Regions from separate parts of the Homo sapiens genome. Here region 1 is linked to region 2. A link means that fine-mapping ties the variant in region 2 to the expression of a gene that starts in the linked region. Tissue or cell type: whole blood. Region 2 holds a variant in brackets; the other region holds the start of a gene. All regions are shown on one strand. Distances are between the middles of the regions.

Region 1 (8,188 bases), 91 kb before region 2:
GCGATTTCCCATTAGGTTGGCAGGCACATGGGAGTAGAGAATGATTTAATTTACTTACAGGTATTCGGAAAAGATAGTGACCTCTACATTCAACCGGCTACAGCAGCTTAGCACCTAGCCAAAGCCTGCATCTCTCCCACCTTAGGATTTAGTGGTTGGCTAGAGCTGACAGCGTCCATGCCACATCTGTCTCTGCATTCTAAGTTTGCTTCCAAGATACAGATACAAATGCAGGCTGGCTCCAACCTAGCCAGAGATCCTAGCCCCACTCTCACCATCCCAAAATCCCTCAAAGATCCAACAGACTTTCCAGATTACTAGAGTCTCCTCTCAGGTTCCCTTGACAGTTAAATGCCCTCTTTATCTGAACTAGCTGCAGGTACCATATAATGGGTACAACAGAAAATCATACTGCTGTAAGTGTAAAAGATACGCAGCTCTTTCAAGCATTTCACTATATTACATCTAGGTTACCTTCAAGTGATTTATTCAGATGTGATTGAAGAAAATCTAAAGGGAAAAAAAAAACAATTTAATTTGATATCAGATATCCTGGCTTTATAACAAATAAAACATTTCAAGTTAATAGAAGATACAAAATATTCACTATCAAAATGTCCTCACTGACAAAAATGTTCTCAAATATTTCTGTCTCAAAGTTGCATTGTTCAGTAAGGAAGCAAAGTAGGTGAGACATATACACCAACAACATCCCTAATAAAAAACTTAGCTCATCCCTATAAGCCCGGAAGCAAATAAATCACCCTTACATACGTTAATTACTTTCCAATTTCAAATTCTCAACTGTGAAATAAAGGGCTGTTTTATTTGGCTGCTGCCAGCTCAAAATGACACATTGCACCATGTGTGGCATTTGGGCCCTGTTTGGCAGTGATGACTGCCTTTCTGTTCAGTGTCTGAGTGCTACGAAGATTGTACACAGAGGTCCAGATACATTCCGTTTTGAGAATGTCAATGGATACACCAAAAACAAGATGTTTTAATTAAAACATCTCTAACTTGAAAAATAACTATTTTGGTGTTTTTTTTAAAAAAACTGCGAATTGCAGCAAATGCCCAAATAGTTTGGGATAAACACCCTAAGGAAAAAATATACATTCAAGTTGCATAAGTCACTTTGAGCTATTCTTTGATGATATTTCATTTATATCTAAAAGAACCAAAGGTTTAGCTGGCTTTTCCGGAAAACCAGAACCAAATAATATATGGTTAGAATGAAAATCATCTCAAGCAATTTGGAAATGAAGTACCACATGTCCTATGCTGTCTCTTCCATGCACTTGACCAAATAGCCCAAATAGCCTATAACAAATTATTTGAGATTTACTGGAAAAATTCCATAAGATTTAAATGAGATGACTACTAATAAGCCATCTGCCTTTGACTCTATATCAATTTAAAACGGGTTAGGAAAGTGCTTTGAAAATCAAGTATGGTCATCAGGGAATCAGTTACCTAAGTCTTCTTAACGCTGCTTAGTGAATCCCTGTATTAATCCTGCTATAATAAATACATTCTAACCACTAAACTGGAGGGGAAAAAGGGAGAACAAAGAGGCATGTAAAGTACACTTATTTTTTCTAGTAGGAAAAAGCCAATTAAAACTATAACCTATTATTTTTATTGGAATCAGTCTTATAGGAGGGCAAAGTTCCTACTGCCGCTACCTGTTCTCAATATTTTTCTTATTTCTTCCTAAACTTCTAGAACAGTGCTGTCCAATAAATATATATGTAAGCCACATATGTAATTTTAAATATACTAGTAGCCCCATTAAAAGAAAAAGGTGAAATTAATTTTAAATAAACTTAACTCAGTATGTCCCAAATAGTAACATTTTAACATATATGTAATCAATATAAAATATTATCGAGCAGATATTTTACACTGTTCTTCCTACTCCAACGACAAAATCCAGTGTATTTAACACAATACATCTCAGTTAGGACTAGCCAGCACTTCAAGTGCTCAACAGTTACAGGTGGCTAGCGCCTACCGAACTGGACATGGCAGTTTCAGTGCATTTAATTTCTATTCCACTTAGTGCTACTTACAACTTCACCCTCTCCCTTTACTTTTATATTAAGATCTCAGTAAGTAACCAACTACAGACAGGTTCAAGCCCTACTTTACCTCTAATTACTCTTACAGCAATGCTATGAATCATGATTTAAAATTTAAAAAAAAAAACTGCTGTTAAATTATTAGTCAAGCGCCCAGGGCAATGGACAGTAAAGAAATAATGTAGGCCACGGGCCGAGATGAAAACTGTCCTTTTTATTTAAAGCTATAACAATCATCTGAAGCCAGCCCTGCAAAATGACAGCCATTGAAAAAGGCATGCTAGTTCTTTTGCCTTTTTCTGTACTTGGTCGCCTGTGTCCCTAAACAGACCTCTTCTCGGCAGGGTTTGCTCAGCAAGTCACTTGATGAGTCTTGCAGTCTACAGAGACAGGTGGGGACTGGTGGGGATGGCGGGGTGAGAGGGGAGGAGGAGGGTGAGCGGTCCAGGTGAGGAGGGGGGCAGTTGAAGGTGAAAGCAGACACCGAGACGGTGATAAGGCCGCAGTCTCTTCCTAGATCAGGACCACGCGACACCTGACTGCGCCCTGGCCACGAGCACGATCCGACCCGTCCGCCGCAGGGACCCGGACCGCGAAAATGTCCACAGGCTTCGACGCCACATAGTAAAAAAAAGTACACATATAACATTTACAGGGGCTCAAACTGCCGCTGCCTCCTCTCCGGAGCGGTCCGGCCTGCCGGCCGCGGTTCCCTCTCGATGCTTCAGGGAACCAGGACAGAAAGGTCCTTCCGCTAGCTGTCAGGTGCGTAACAATCGCTAGGCGTCCGCCCCGCCCTCCCTACCGCAGGAGCCGCAGCATCAGCAGGCGCCCGCGAACCGCGTCTGCCGGGTGCCAGGCTGAAGACCGCATCCTCCACCCCTTCCTTCCGGAGCAGCCCCAGGGCACGCGAGGAGGATGCTGGCGCGGGGCGCAGGGCACGGGGCGCAGGACCCGGCTCACCTGGGCGTAAGCAGGTCAGGGTGATGTGGCGGGCTGAGGCCAGGGATGTGGACAGCTTGACGGGCGGCGAGGCCGCTGGCGCTTATACCGACCTGGCTCCTGTAACGCGTGCGGGAAGTTTCATCATGCCTGCGAGGACCAACCAGCGCGCACAGGGGCGGGGCCGCGGGGTGTCCGGGGCGGAGCAGGACTAAGTGGGGCGGCGGAAGGGCGCAAGGAGGAGCTCTTTTGTTTCCAGCGCCTTGCGTCTCAGTGCGCCTGTTTAAGGATAGCCTCAGAGCTCCGCCCAGGCTACCTGCTGTTCTGACAATTAGGGAGGCTTCTGAACTTGGTTTGTTCTTCGGGAAATCATCACCGTTTTTTTGTTGCACTGCCGTCTGATTTATTATGCAGTGCAGAGAAAAGCTTGTCCTAAGAAACTGATGCGTGAGGCCTAAAATGTCCTTATAAGATCTATTAATAAATCGGGGCCAGGAGCGGTGGCTCACGCCTGTAATCCCAACACTTTGGGAAGCCAAGGCAAGAGGATCACTTGAAACCAGGAGTTCAAGACCAGCCTGGGAAACACAGCGAGATCACATCTCTATAAAAATTGGTGGCACACCATGGTAGTCCCAGCAACTCAGGAGGCTGAGGCAGAAGGATAGTTTGAGCCCAGGCGTTTGAGGCTGAGGTGAGCTCAACTCCAGCCTGGGCGACAAAGGGAGACCCCCATCTCTAAAACAATAAAATCTAAATCTAATTGATACATGAAGCCAAAATACATCAGTGGTCCTTAAACATTTTAAGTACAAAGATTCCTTTTAGAATCTCAAAAAGGATTTTGTCAACTTGCCTCCACAAGATGATTATGTGCTTTTAAGTATCTCTTTGATGAAGAAAAGACATCACGATTTTTAAAAAGTATCATAACACTCTTAAATCGTATTTTACTAATTACATCAGCACCGAAATAAATTGAGAAATAGTAAAATTATATGTGCACGACCTACTAAGATCAGACTACAGTCAATGCTTGGAGAGCATGCAGGTTTGATATCCCCATACAACGCATTCCTGACTAAATCAAAAACGTCAACAATTTAAAATCCCTAAGAACAGAAGATGGAGTAGTCGCTTAGTAGTTACAGGCAAGAGCAAAGATGAGAGATGACTTGTTCTAAGGTTCATTGTTGCTGGAAAGTTTTCAGTATCAAACAGACTTTGCTGTATCCTAATTGACGTACTTTAAACCTGAGAGCAATGTGGGAAAGTAGGTCTTCTATCTACATTTTACAAATGAAAAAATAAGACTCAGAAAAGTTGAGGGATTTATCCAAACACAGCTTCACAACAGTAGAGAACTGAGTCATAATCTGTGTAAACCCAGAGCCCATTTCCCGTAGCATCTTGCCTATGTAGTGAAAGACAGGTTCCCCTGCTTGGTGTGTTACCTAGTGTGCTTCCTTGTGCTGCGTATCTCCTGCTTGTCCGTCCAGAGCTCTACACTTCTCCACCTCACTTTCTATCCTGGCTCCCTTGCCCTCCTCTTTCAGGGAGAGTGTGCAAAGGCAGACATTTCAAGGAGATGCAAAAGGTGAAATTAAAATTGCTAATGAAGTTTTGGCACCATTGTCATTGATAACATCTTATCAGGAGACAGGGTTTTGAGATCAACCGGTCTGACCAAAGTTTATTAGGTGGGAATTTTCTCTTCCTAATAAGCCTGGGAGTGCTATGGGAGACTGGAGTTTATTTCACCTCTGCAGTCTCGACCATAAGAGACAGGTACGCCCCGGGGGGCCAGTTTAGAGACCTACCCCTAGGTGCGCATTCTCTTTCTCAGGGACGTTCCATGCTGAGAAAAGGAATTCAGCGATATTTCTCCCATTTGCTTTTGAAAGAAGAGAAATATGGTTCTGTTCTGCCTGGCTCACCGGCGGTCAGAGTTTAAGGTTATCTCTCTTATTCCCTGAACAATTGCTGTTATCCTGTTCTTTTTTCAGGGTGCCCACATTTCATATTGCTCAAACACACATGCTGTATAATTTGTGTACTTAACGCAATTATTACAGGTCCTGAGACGATATACATCCTTCTCGGCTGACAGGATTAAGAGATTAAAGTAATGACAGGCATAGGAAATCACAAGGGTATTGATTAGGGAAGTGATAAGTTTAGTCCATGAAATCTTTACAATTTATGTTTAGAGATTGCAGTGAAGGCAGGCATAAGAAATTACAAAAGTATTAATTTGGGGAACTAATAAATGTCCATAAAATCTTCATAATCCACGTTCTTCTGTCATGGCTTCAGCTGGTCCCTCCGTTTGGGGTCCCTGACTTCCCGCAACACAGCACAGTGCCTGGCACAAAAGAGTTGCTCAATAAATACATCAGGATGAATAGATAAATACACGGATAGGCACTTTGAACTACAGATGAGCTTAAATACTTTGTGTTTTTCTTAGTCAAACATGTGCAATTAAGCATGTGATAAATGTTATGATGACCACACGTGTGTCTTGCCTGATGTTCTTTGCAATCACTAAATGAAGTCAATTGTGCCTGTTTTGACAGTTCTATTTTCAACCTAATGATCTGTTTATTTTAACTTCTGGCTGTTGGCTTTGTTTGGGTTTGTTAGCCTGACGAAGTGGTAGATATTGGTATTTGCTCTTTTGTTTAAATGTCACGAACTTTAAAAATGCCTTTGCTTTTGGGAAGAAACCCTAGTTAGGACACCCTAGCGGTCAGGATGATTTGGGTTCTGGTGCAGTAACGACAATCCCCAAATCTCAGTGGCTCCATGCAGTGAGGTATTTGTTTGTTTTTGAGACAGGGTCTCACTCTGTCACCCAGACTAGAGTGCAGTGGTGCAATCTCAGCTCACTGCAACCTCTGCCTCCCAGACTCAAGTGATTCTCCTGCCTCCTGAGTAGCTGGGATTACAGGCCCATGCCACCACTGTCTGGCTAATTTTTGTACTTAGTAGAGACAGGATTTCACCATGTTAGCCAGGCTGGTCTTGAACTCCTGACCTCAAATGATCCACCCGCCTTGGCCTCCCAAAGTTCTGGGATGACAGGCATGAGCCACCATGCCTGGCCACAGTGAGGCTTATTCTTGGTCACGTTGCATGTCTGGGCTGTGTTAGGGCATTGTGTGGTGGTCTGTTCATTGTGTTCACTCAGGGATCCAGGCTGACAAAAGCCCCATCTCTGCATGTGTCCTTGATCACCCTTCAGGGGAAACGGAATGTGGTGGATCATAGAGCCTCTTAACACTTCCACCTGGAGGTGACTCAAGTTGCTGCTGCTGCTCATGGTTCATTGGACAAAACGGATCACAGAGTCATGAGCAACTTCTCTGTGCTTGGAAGGGGAAACAAATTTGAATAGCCACATTGATTTTCCCTAGATATTACACAGAAGGCCTCATTTAAACACAGTTACTTATTTGTGTTTTGAAGCTAATTGTAGTCCATCAACCTTCACAGAAGACATGTGCACTTCCAAGCTATTATTAGGCAATTTTTTTTTTTTTGAGACAGAGTCTTACTCTCTTGCCCAGGCTGGAGTGCAGTGGCATGATCATGGATCGCTGCAACTTCTGCCTCCTGGGTTCAAGTGATTTTCATGCATCAGCCTCCCAAAATGCTGGGATTACAGACACCCACCACCACGCCTGGCTAAGTTTTGTATTTTTAGTAGAGATGGGGTTTCACCATGTTGGCCTGGTTGGTCTGGAACTCCTGACCTCAGGTGATCCACCTGCCTCGGCCTCCCAAAGTGCTGAGATGATAGGCATGAGCCGCCGCACCCGGCCTTGAGTATGATTTTTGATTTGGAAGGTCAGAGTTAGGGTTTTAGTCTGAGGACTGTATGATGTGAAGGTGAAAAGCAGAGCTTGGCTGTGAGTTTGCTGGTATTCCTGTGCTGCTTCTACAGCTCTTTGGCTGTGTGACCGTCACCTTTGGCAAGTTCCTTTACCTTTCTATGTGTTGGTTTCCTCATCAATAAAATGGAAAAAATAATCATAATCATAATAGCTATTGGTGTTGGGATAGCCCAGTGGTTGACACATAAGGACTCAAACATATTTTTTTTTTTTTTTTTGAGACGGAGTCTTGCTCTGTTGCCAGGCTGGAGTGCAGTGGTGCAATCTCGGCTCACTGCAACCTCTGCCTCCTGGATTCAATCGATTCTCCTGCCTCAGCCTCCTGAGTAGCTGGGATTACAGGTGCCTGCTACCACTCCCAGTTAATTTTTGTATTTTTAGTAGAGACGGGGTTTCACCATGTTGTCCAGGATGCTCTCGATCTCTTGACCTCATGATCCACCCACCTCAGCCTCCCAAAGTGCTGGGATTACAGGCATGAACCACCGTGCCCAGCTCAAAAATACTATTATTAATTTTGGGGGGCAGTTACTATATTTTGTGAAAATCAGAGTTCAGTACCTTGTAACACTGAGTTGGGATCTATCCCTGAAGGAACAGGCTTCTAAAGAGGAAGGCATCGAGAGAGGGGCAAAATTTTAGTGGACGCTGTAATGACTTTAGGTATATGGACCTGGGGCTGAGTTCTAGCTGGGGCCACCAGGTAGCAAGGTGGACTTTGCTAAATTCTATCACTTTCCTGAGCCTCAGACTCACTTGTTACAAATGGGGTTAAAGCATCCCTCTTTCAGGGCTAAGATAAAGATGATTAAGTAAGAGGGAATGAAAGCAACTTCCATCAATGGTCAAAAGTATTCATTTAACTTCTTTTTTTTTTTTTTTTTGAGATGGAGTCTCTCTCTGTTGCCCAGGTTGGAGTGCAGTGGCATGGTCCCGGGTCACTGCAACCTCCACCTCCTGGGTTCAAGTGATTCCCCTGCCTCAGCCTCCTGAGTAGCTGGGACTACAGGTGCGTGCCACCACGCCTGGCTAATTTTTGTATTTTTAGTAGAGACGGGGTTTTACCATGTTGGCCAGGATGGTCTCGATCTCCTGATATTGTGATCCACCCACCTTAGCCTCCCAAAGTGTTGGGATTACAGGCATGAGCCACCATGCCTGGCCCATTTAACTTCTATATTACTTTCCTGTTGGTGGATTTACCAGTGCAAACTGAGCAGCTTAAAACACCATCCAGTTATTATCTGTTTCCATGAGCCAAGG
Region 2 (8,188 bases):
GCGAGTCGGACCTGTCATAAAATTCGTAATATCCTTGCGGGAGTTCACTAGTAATTTCACAATGTGTGTACACCCTTTGATATTCTTCGTATTATCCTAAGATGTTACTACTCATGTCCCAATGCAGGTACATTCTCTGATATTCTTCATTATATCCTAGGGGGATGTTACTTCTAATGTCACACGGGGTGTACTCCCTGTGTTCTATTTCGTAATGTCCTAGGACAGTTTTACTTTTAATGACTCAGGGGGTGTACACATTGTGATATGATTCGTGGTATTCTAGAAGGATGTTACTCCTAATGTCACAGGGGTGTAGACCCTGTGAAAGTATTCATAATTTTCCAGGGGTCTATACTCCTAATGTCACAGAAGATAACACCCAGTGACATTATTCATAATATTCTAGCGAGATGATACTCCTAATGTCACAGGGGGTGTACACCCTGTGATATTATTCTAAGTATTCTCGGGGGATGTTACTCTTAATGTCACACGTGTGTTCCTTCTGTGATATTATTGAAAATATGCTAGCTGGATATTACTACTAATGTCACAATGCGTGTACACCTTGTGATATTATTAGTAATATTCTGGGGGGATGTTACCCCTAACGTTACAGGGGTGTACACCATGTGATATTGTTCCCAATATTGTAGGGGGATGTTACTCCTAATGTCACGGGAGCTGTACACCCTTCGATATTATTTGTAATCTTATAGAGAGATATTACTTAAAGTATCATAGTGGGTGTACACACATGGGGTACACCCACTGGGATATTATTTCTAATATCTTCGAGAGACATAACTCCTAATATCACAGTGGGCGTACCCCATGTGTTTACACCTGTGATATTCTTTGTAATATCCATGGTAAACATGACTGCTAGTATCCCACAGAGGGTACACCCTGTGATATTATTCACCATATCTGAGGGAGGTATAACTTTTAATATCACAGTGGGTGTACAAACTGTGATATTATTTGTCATATCGTAGAAGTATATTATTCCTATTGTCACAGGGGTTTCACATCCTGTGAAATTATTTGTAGTCATCCAGGGGGATGATTATCGTAAAGTCGCAGGGTGTGTACACCCTGTGATATTCTTCTTCATATTCTAGGGGGATGTGACTCCTCATGTTGCAAATGTGTACACGCTGTGATATTATTCACCATCTACTAGCTGGCTATTGTTACTAATGTCACAATGTGTGTACACCTTGTGATGTTATTCATAATATCCTAAGGGGATGTTCCTCCTGTTGTCACAGGGGCTGCGCTTTCTGTGCTATGATTTGTAGTATCCCAGGGGATGTTACTCCTACCATACAAATTGGGTACACTTTGTTATATTATTCGTAATATCCTAGAGTGATGTTACCCTTCATATCACGGGGGTGTTCCTCCTGTGATGTTATTCTTCACATTCTAGGAAGATGTGAACCCCTAATATCACAGAGCGTGTACAATCTGTGAAGTTATTCATAATAGTTTTGGGGGATGTTACTCCTAATGTCACACTTGGTGTATAAACCGTGATATGATTTGTCAAGCTTTTTTGGATATGTTAGTCCTAATCTCACAGGGGCTGTACACCCCGTGATATTATTCATAATATCTTAAAGAAATATTACCACTAATATCACAGGTGGTGTACACCCTGTGGTATTATTCCCGATGTTGTAGGGTGATGTTACTCCTAATGTTACAGATGGTATTCACATTCTGATAATACTCGTCATACCCTAAAGGGATGTTACTACTGATGTCACAATGCACGTACACAATCTGATATTATTTCTTATATCCTCGGGCAATGTTGCTTCTAATGTCACATGGGGTGTACACTTTTTGATTTTATTCGTCATATTTTAGAAAGATGTTACTCCTAATGTCACAGAGGGTGTACGCCCTGTGAAGTTATTCATAATAATTTTGGAGGCTGGGACTCCTAATGTCACCCGTGGTGTACAAACAGTGATATTATTCGTAATATTTTATGGAAATGTTACTCCAAATGTCGCAGGGGCCTTACACCTTGTAATATTATTCATCATAACCTAATGAAATGTTACCTCTAATGTCACAGGGGGTGTACACCGTATGATATGGTGCCCAATATTGTAGGGGGATGTTACTCCTAATATTACAGGGGGCGTTCACACTGTGATAATATTCGTAATATCCTAAATGGATGTTAATGCTAGTGACACGACGCGTGTACATCCTCTGTATTTGTTCGTTATATCCTCGGGGGAGGTTTCTCCTACTGTCACATGGGGTGTACTCTCTGTGATATTATTCAGAATATCCTAGGTGGATGTTACTCCTCGTGTCACAGGGGCTGTGCATTCATTTTGTGATGTTATTCACAATGTCCTAGAAGGATGTTACTCCTCAGGTCACAGGGGATGTACACCCTGTGATATTATTCATACTATCCTAGGGGATGTTACTCCAAATGTCACAGAAGGTGTACACTCTGTGATATTACTTGCAATGTGCCAGGGAAATGTACTCCTAATGTCACAGGGCATGTGCACCATGTGTGCACAGCCCCTGTGATGTTATTTGTAATATTCTTGAGGGATGTTAATCCTAATATTCCATATGCTGTTAACCATGTGTGAACACCTTTGTGGTATTATTCCTAACATACTAGAAAGATGTAACTCCTAACATCACGTGGGGTATAGGCCATGTGCGTACACCTTCTGTGATATTATTCATAACATCGTAGGGAGATGCTACTCCTAATTTTACAAGGTGCGTACATTATGTGTGTACACCCCCTCTGATGGTATTCGTAATATTCTAGGGGAATGTTGCTGCTAATGTCACAGGGAGAGTACACCATGTGTATGCAACCCTGGTAATATTATTTCTAATATCTTGGGGGGGTGTTGCTCCTAATGTCACCTGGAGTGTACAGCATGTGTGTACACCTTCTGTGATATTCATAAATCACAGAAAAAGATTACGCCTAATGTAACAGGATGTGTACACCGTGTGCATCAACCGCCTTTGATATTATTCGTAATATACTAGGGGGCTGTGACTTTGAATGTCACAAAGAGTGTACAAAATGTCACAGGGTGTGTATGCCTCATGATATGATTCCTGATATCCAGAAGGATGTTACTCCTAAGGTCACGGGGGTGCACACACTTCGATAATATTTGTAGTCTTATAGGGAGATTTTACTGTAAATCTCACAGTGGGTGTACACTATGTACACTATGTGTAGACTGTGATATTATTTGTAATATCTCAGATACTACAGAGTTATAGCTCTCCGTGTTATATTAGAATTATATCTAAGACAGTACAAATAATACCACAGTGGGTGTACCTCATGTGTGTACACCCTGTGATATTATTTGTAATATCCATGGTAAACATTACATCTAATATCACAGAGAGTGTTCTCCCTTTGATATTTCTCATACTCTCATAGGGAGATATTGCTTTTAATGTCGCAGTGGGTGTACACCATGCGTGTACATTCTGTGATACACCTTATATCCTAGGGAGATATCTCTCCGAATATCAGTGTGTGTACGCCTTGTGATATTCTTCATATCCTAGAAGGATGTTACTCCTAATAAGACAGAGGGCGTACACCCAGTGATGTTCTTTGTAATATCCTAGGGAGATGTTACTCCTAATGTCACACGGGGTGTACACCCATGATATTATTCCTAATATTCTAGGGGGATGTTACTTTTAAAGTCACAGGGGGCGTACACCCTGTGAGGTTGTTCGTAATATCCTAAGAAGATGTTGCTCTTAATGTCACATGGGGTGTACACCCTGTGATATTACTCGGAATATCTTATGGGGATGCTACTCCTAACGTCACAGGCTGTGTACACCCTGTGATGCTATTCGGAATAGCCACAGAGATGTTACTTTTGATGTCACAGACAGGGTCCACCCTTTGATTTTTTTATCATCTTAGGGAGATATGACTTCAAATATCACAGTGGGTGTACACCCACTGTGATGTTATTCGGAATACCCTAGGGAGATATAACTTTTAATATCACCGTGGGCGTACATACTATTTGTGTACACCTACTGTGATATTATTCCTAATATCCTAAAAATAAATAGGACTCCTAATATCACAGTTGGTGTACACACTGTGATATGAGTCGTAATATTCCAACAGGATGTTACTCCTCAGGTCACAGGTGGTTAATACCCTGGGACAGTATTCCTCATATTCCAGGGCGCTGATACTCCTAAAGTCACAGGGTGTGTACCCCCTGTGATATTATTCCTCCTATTCAAGGGGGATGTTACTCCTAATGTCACAGGGATGTACACCCTGTGATATTATTCATAGTATACCAGAGGGATATTAGTACGAATGTCACAATGCGTGTACATCTTGGCATATCATTCGTATTATCCTAATGTCACAGGGGGTGTGTTCCCTGTGACATTATTCCTAATATCCTAGACGGCTATTTCTCCTAACATTACAGGGTGTGTACACCTTGTCATATCATTCATAATATCCTAAAACTACGTTATTCCTCATGTCACAGAGGGTGTTCACCTTGTGATATTATT[C/T]GTAATTGTTTTGTGGGATGTTACTCCTAATGTCATACAGGGTGTACACAGAGTCACACAGTGCTATGACGTGTAATATTATATAGAAATGTTACTCGTAAATCACAGGGGCTGTACCTCCTGTGATATTATTCGTCATATTCTAGGGGAATGTTACTATTGTCACAGGGGGTGTACACCCTGTGACATTACTCGTCATATCCTAGCGGGATGTTACTACCAATGTCACAATGCGTGTACACCCTGTGATACGATTTATAATATCCTAGAGACGTTACTAAGGTCACAATGCATGTACACCCTCTGATATTATTCATCATATCCTCGGGGGATGTCACTTTTAATGTCACATGGGGTGTACTCCCTGTGATATTATTCATAATATCCTAAGGGCTTGTTACTTTTAATGTCACCAGGGGTGTATATCATGCATATTCAACACCTGTGATACTATTCCTAATATCCTAGGGGCATGTTCCTCCTAATGTCACATGGGGTGTACACCATGTGTGTACACCTGCTGTGGTATTATTCATAATATCCTAGGGGAATGTTACTCCTGATGGCACAGACGGTGTACACCGTGTGTGTACACCGCCTGTCATTACTCGTAATATCCTAGGGGGATGTTTCTTTCAATGTCACAAAGGGTGTACAAAATGTCACAAAATGTGTTCACCTTGTGACGTTATCTGTAATACCCTGGAAGGACGTTACTCCTAATAGGTCACGGGGGTGTACACCTTTTGATATTATTTGTAATCTCATAGAGAGATATGACTTGAAATATCAGTGGATGTACACACATAGTGTATACCCTGTGATATGATTCATAATATCCTAGGGAGATACAACTCCTGATATCACAGTGCGTGTACCCCGGGTGTGTACACCCTTGATGTTAATCATAATATCCAGGGTAAAGATTACTCCTAAGATCACACAGTGGGCATACCCTGTGATAATTTTCATCATATTATAGGGAGATATTGCTTCTAATATCACAGTGGTTATACCCCTTTTGTGTATACTGTGTGACAGTATTCTTTATATCCTAGGGAGGTATTACTCCTAATATCACAGTAGGTGTTCACCCTGTGTTATCATTATTTGACCTTGCTGCCTTTTTGAACCCACACTACAAAGGAATGGAACAGATAAGATATTGAGATTAGACTGTGCTGCCGTGCGGCTGCCGCAGGACACCTTTCATATCCCTGTTTCTCAGGCTGTAGATGAAGGGGGTCAGCATGGGGGTGACCAGTGTGTACATCACTGAGGCCACTGCACCCTTTCTGGGGGAAGATGACACATCTGAACTGAGGTACCCTCCAACGCCTGTTCCATAAACTCAGCAAACAACTGACAGGCGAGACCCACAGGTGGAGAGGGCTTTATACTTCCCACCTGATGAAGAAACCCTCAGAATGGAGGAAACAATTTTAGAGAAAGAGAAAAGGGTCCCCAAGATGGGAAGAAAACCAAATATGGCAGCAGGGAAATACATGATTATGTTAATGGTGAAGGTGTCACAACATGCAAGATGGGAGAGTTGAGAAGGGTCACAGAAGAAATTAGGAATTTCCACATCCTTGAAGCAGGTCACTTGTAAGGCAATCAAGTTGTGCAGCTGGGAGTCTAAAAGACTGAGAAAAAAAAAGACAACAAAACTAGAAAGGCACAGAAACACGGGTTCATGATGGTGAATGATATAGCGGGTGACAGATGGCTACAAACCAGTCATAGGCCATCACACTCAGGAGCATGTCTCTCTTCCATGCCTCCAAAAATGGCAAAGAGAGACATCTGAGTCAGGCAGCCTGCATAGGAGATGACTCTGCTGTGAGACTGGATGTCCACAATCATCTTGGGGACCGTGGTGGAGGTGAAACCGATGTCAGGCAAGGACAGGTTGGAGAGGAAGAAGTACATGGGGGTGTGGAGGTGGGAGTCAGGGCTGATGGCCAGGATGATGAGCAGGTTCCCCAGCACCGTGACCAGGCACATGGACAGGAACAGCCCAGCAAGGACTGGCTGCAGTTCTGGATCCCCTGAGACTTCTAGGAGGAGGAATATAGAGACATCTGTTAGATTCTGTGGGTCTGCATAATTTGGACACCTTTGCCTAGAAACGAGGGTTGAAAAATGGGAAACAAGTAAACCAACACCTGGCATTGTGTCTGCATTTTGAATAGAAGCAATTCACAAGTAATGTTTTCAGATTTCAGAGCAATCCACACTCAGCAATATTTTGCAGTTCTGACAGACTCAATTGTCTTCTAATGCTTTCATCATTGATTTCTGTGTTATTCACTTCTTGCTGTACACACCTGCCTTAGAGACACTAGATTCAAGAATGTTCCAAGAACCAGATCATCATACATAACAAATTCGTAACTGCTAGAAAATACAGCCTATCTTTTCCGAAGAAAACTATGTAATAAAACCATTCTCTTCACTTGAAGAAAAAGGTTATCCTAATTAAAGGAAATTAAGAACTCAAATATTTTATTCTACTAGATTGATGAATTCCCTTGATTTAGAACATTTATAAACACTGTAGAACAGCTGAGACCATGTCATCTGGAAATGAAATTAAAGTTGATAGTTCATAAGCAGAAAATAATTCCACATGCCAGTTAGGTCCTAGTGATTTCATCATTATGTTTTCTGACTTTTCTCCTTCAAGAGAGTAATTGCTTACTCAAATCGGTGGGTCTGGTTTTAAAATTCATGGAAGCTGTAACTCCTGTCCTTAGCTTAGGTGGACTTAGAGTTTTCATCAGAAAGTTTGGCCAGATGCGGTGGCTCACGCCTGTAGTCCCAGCACTTTGGGAGGCTGAGGAGGGCGGATCACGGGGTCAGGAGATCAAGACCATCCTGGCCAACATGGCGAAACCCCGCCTCTACTGAAAATACAAAAACTTCGCCCGGTATGGTGATGCGCGCCTGTAGTCCCAGCTACTCGGGAAGCTGAGGCGGGAGAATGGCTTGAACCTGGGACGCAGAGGCTACAGTGAGCCGAGATCACACCACTGCACTCCAGCCTGGGCAACAAGAGCAAAACTCCGTCTCAAAAAACAAAAAAACAAGAGGAATCAAGTAAGTCAAAGTTACACTTATGACAGCCAATTTTTGTGAACCAAGGAAGTGTGAATTCAAGAATTCACATAGATGTTGACTTTGGCTATCTCCTATGTGCCAAGCAAGATATAGGCTCTAGGGAATTATTAATTCAGCTTATTAAATCTCCCAGTTCTTTTCAATACAGAGACTATTTACATGAGAAAACTTAAGTTAAAAATATGTTACAAAAACTACCATTAAGTGATGTTGTCTCATTTATGAAACCACCTAATTGCTTTAGGCATCTTTCAAAAATTTCAACTTATCCTGAAGTTTCAATTTACATACAGAATATCACCCACATTTTTGTTATTTTTCAGTTTCCTCTCAATGAATGGAATCATCAAACTTTTTATCCTTTTTTTTTTTTGAGATGGAATCTCGCTCTGTTGCCCAGGGTAGAGTGCAGTGGCGCAATCACAGTTCACTGCAGCCTCGACCTCTGAGGCTCAAGCGATCCTCCCACCTCAGCCTC

What was found. PIP is the estimated chance that this variant, and not a neighbour inherited with it, causes the effect. A credible set is the group of variants that fine-mapping cannot tell apart.
Region 1: ASNS starts here. The variant in region 2 is the best candidate, but not a certain one, in a credible set for the expression of ASNS in whole blood (TOPMed, PIP 0.58).

What each region holds. Positions count from the first base shown.
Region 1 is chr7:97,869,304-97,877,491 of GRCh38, forward strand. ASNS (asparagine synthetase (glutamine-hydrolyzing)) reads right to left here and starts at 3,105. Exons shown (of 13, transcript NM_001673.5): 1 at 3,048-3,105; 2 at 475-510. CZ1P-ASNS (CZ1P-ASNS readthrough) reads right to left here. Exons shown (of 19, transcript NR_147989.1): 8 at 475-510. RefSeq lists silencers at 2,827-2,936, 3,247-3,336 and an enhancer at 2,986-3,701.
Region 2 is chr7:97,960,331-97,968,518 of GRCh38, forward strand. The region is part of intron 1 of CZ1P-ASNS (CZ1P-ASNS readthrough); the gene reads right to left. MIR5692A1 (microRNA 5692a-1) reads left to right here and starts at 3,328; the gene lies at 3,328-3,396. It overlaps MIR5692C2 (microRNA 5692c-2), which reads right to left and starts at 4,151; the gene lies at 4,075-4,151. It also overlaps the pseudogene OR7E38P and the pseudogene CCZ1P-OR7E38P. The variant C/T (reference allele first, on the strand shown) is at 4,588.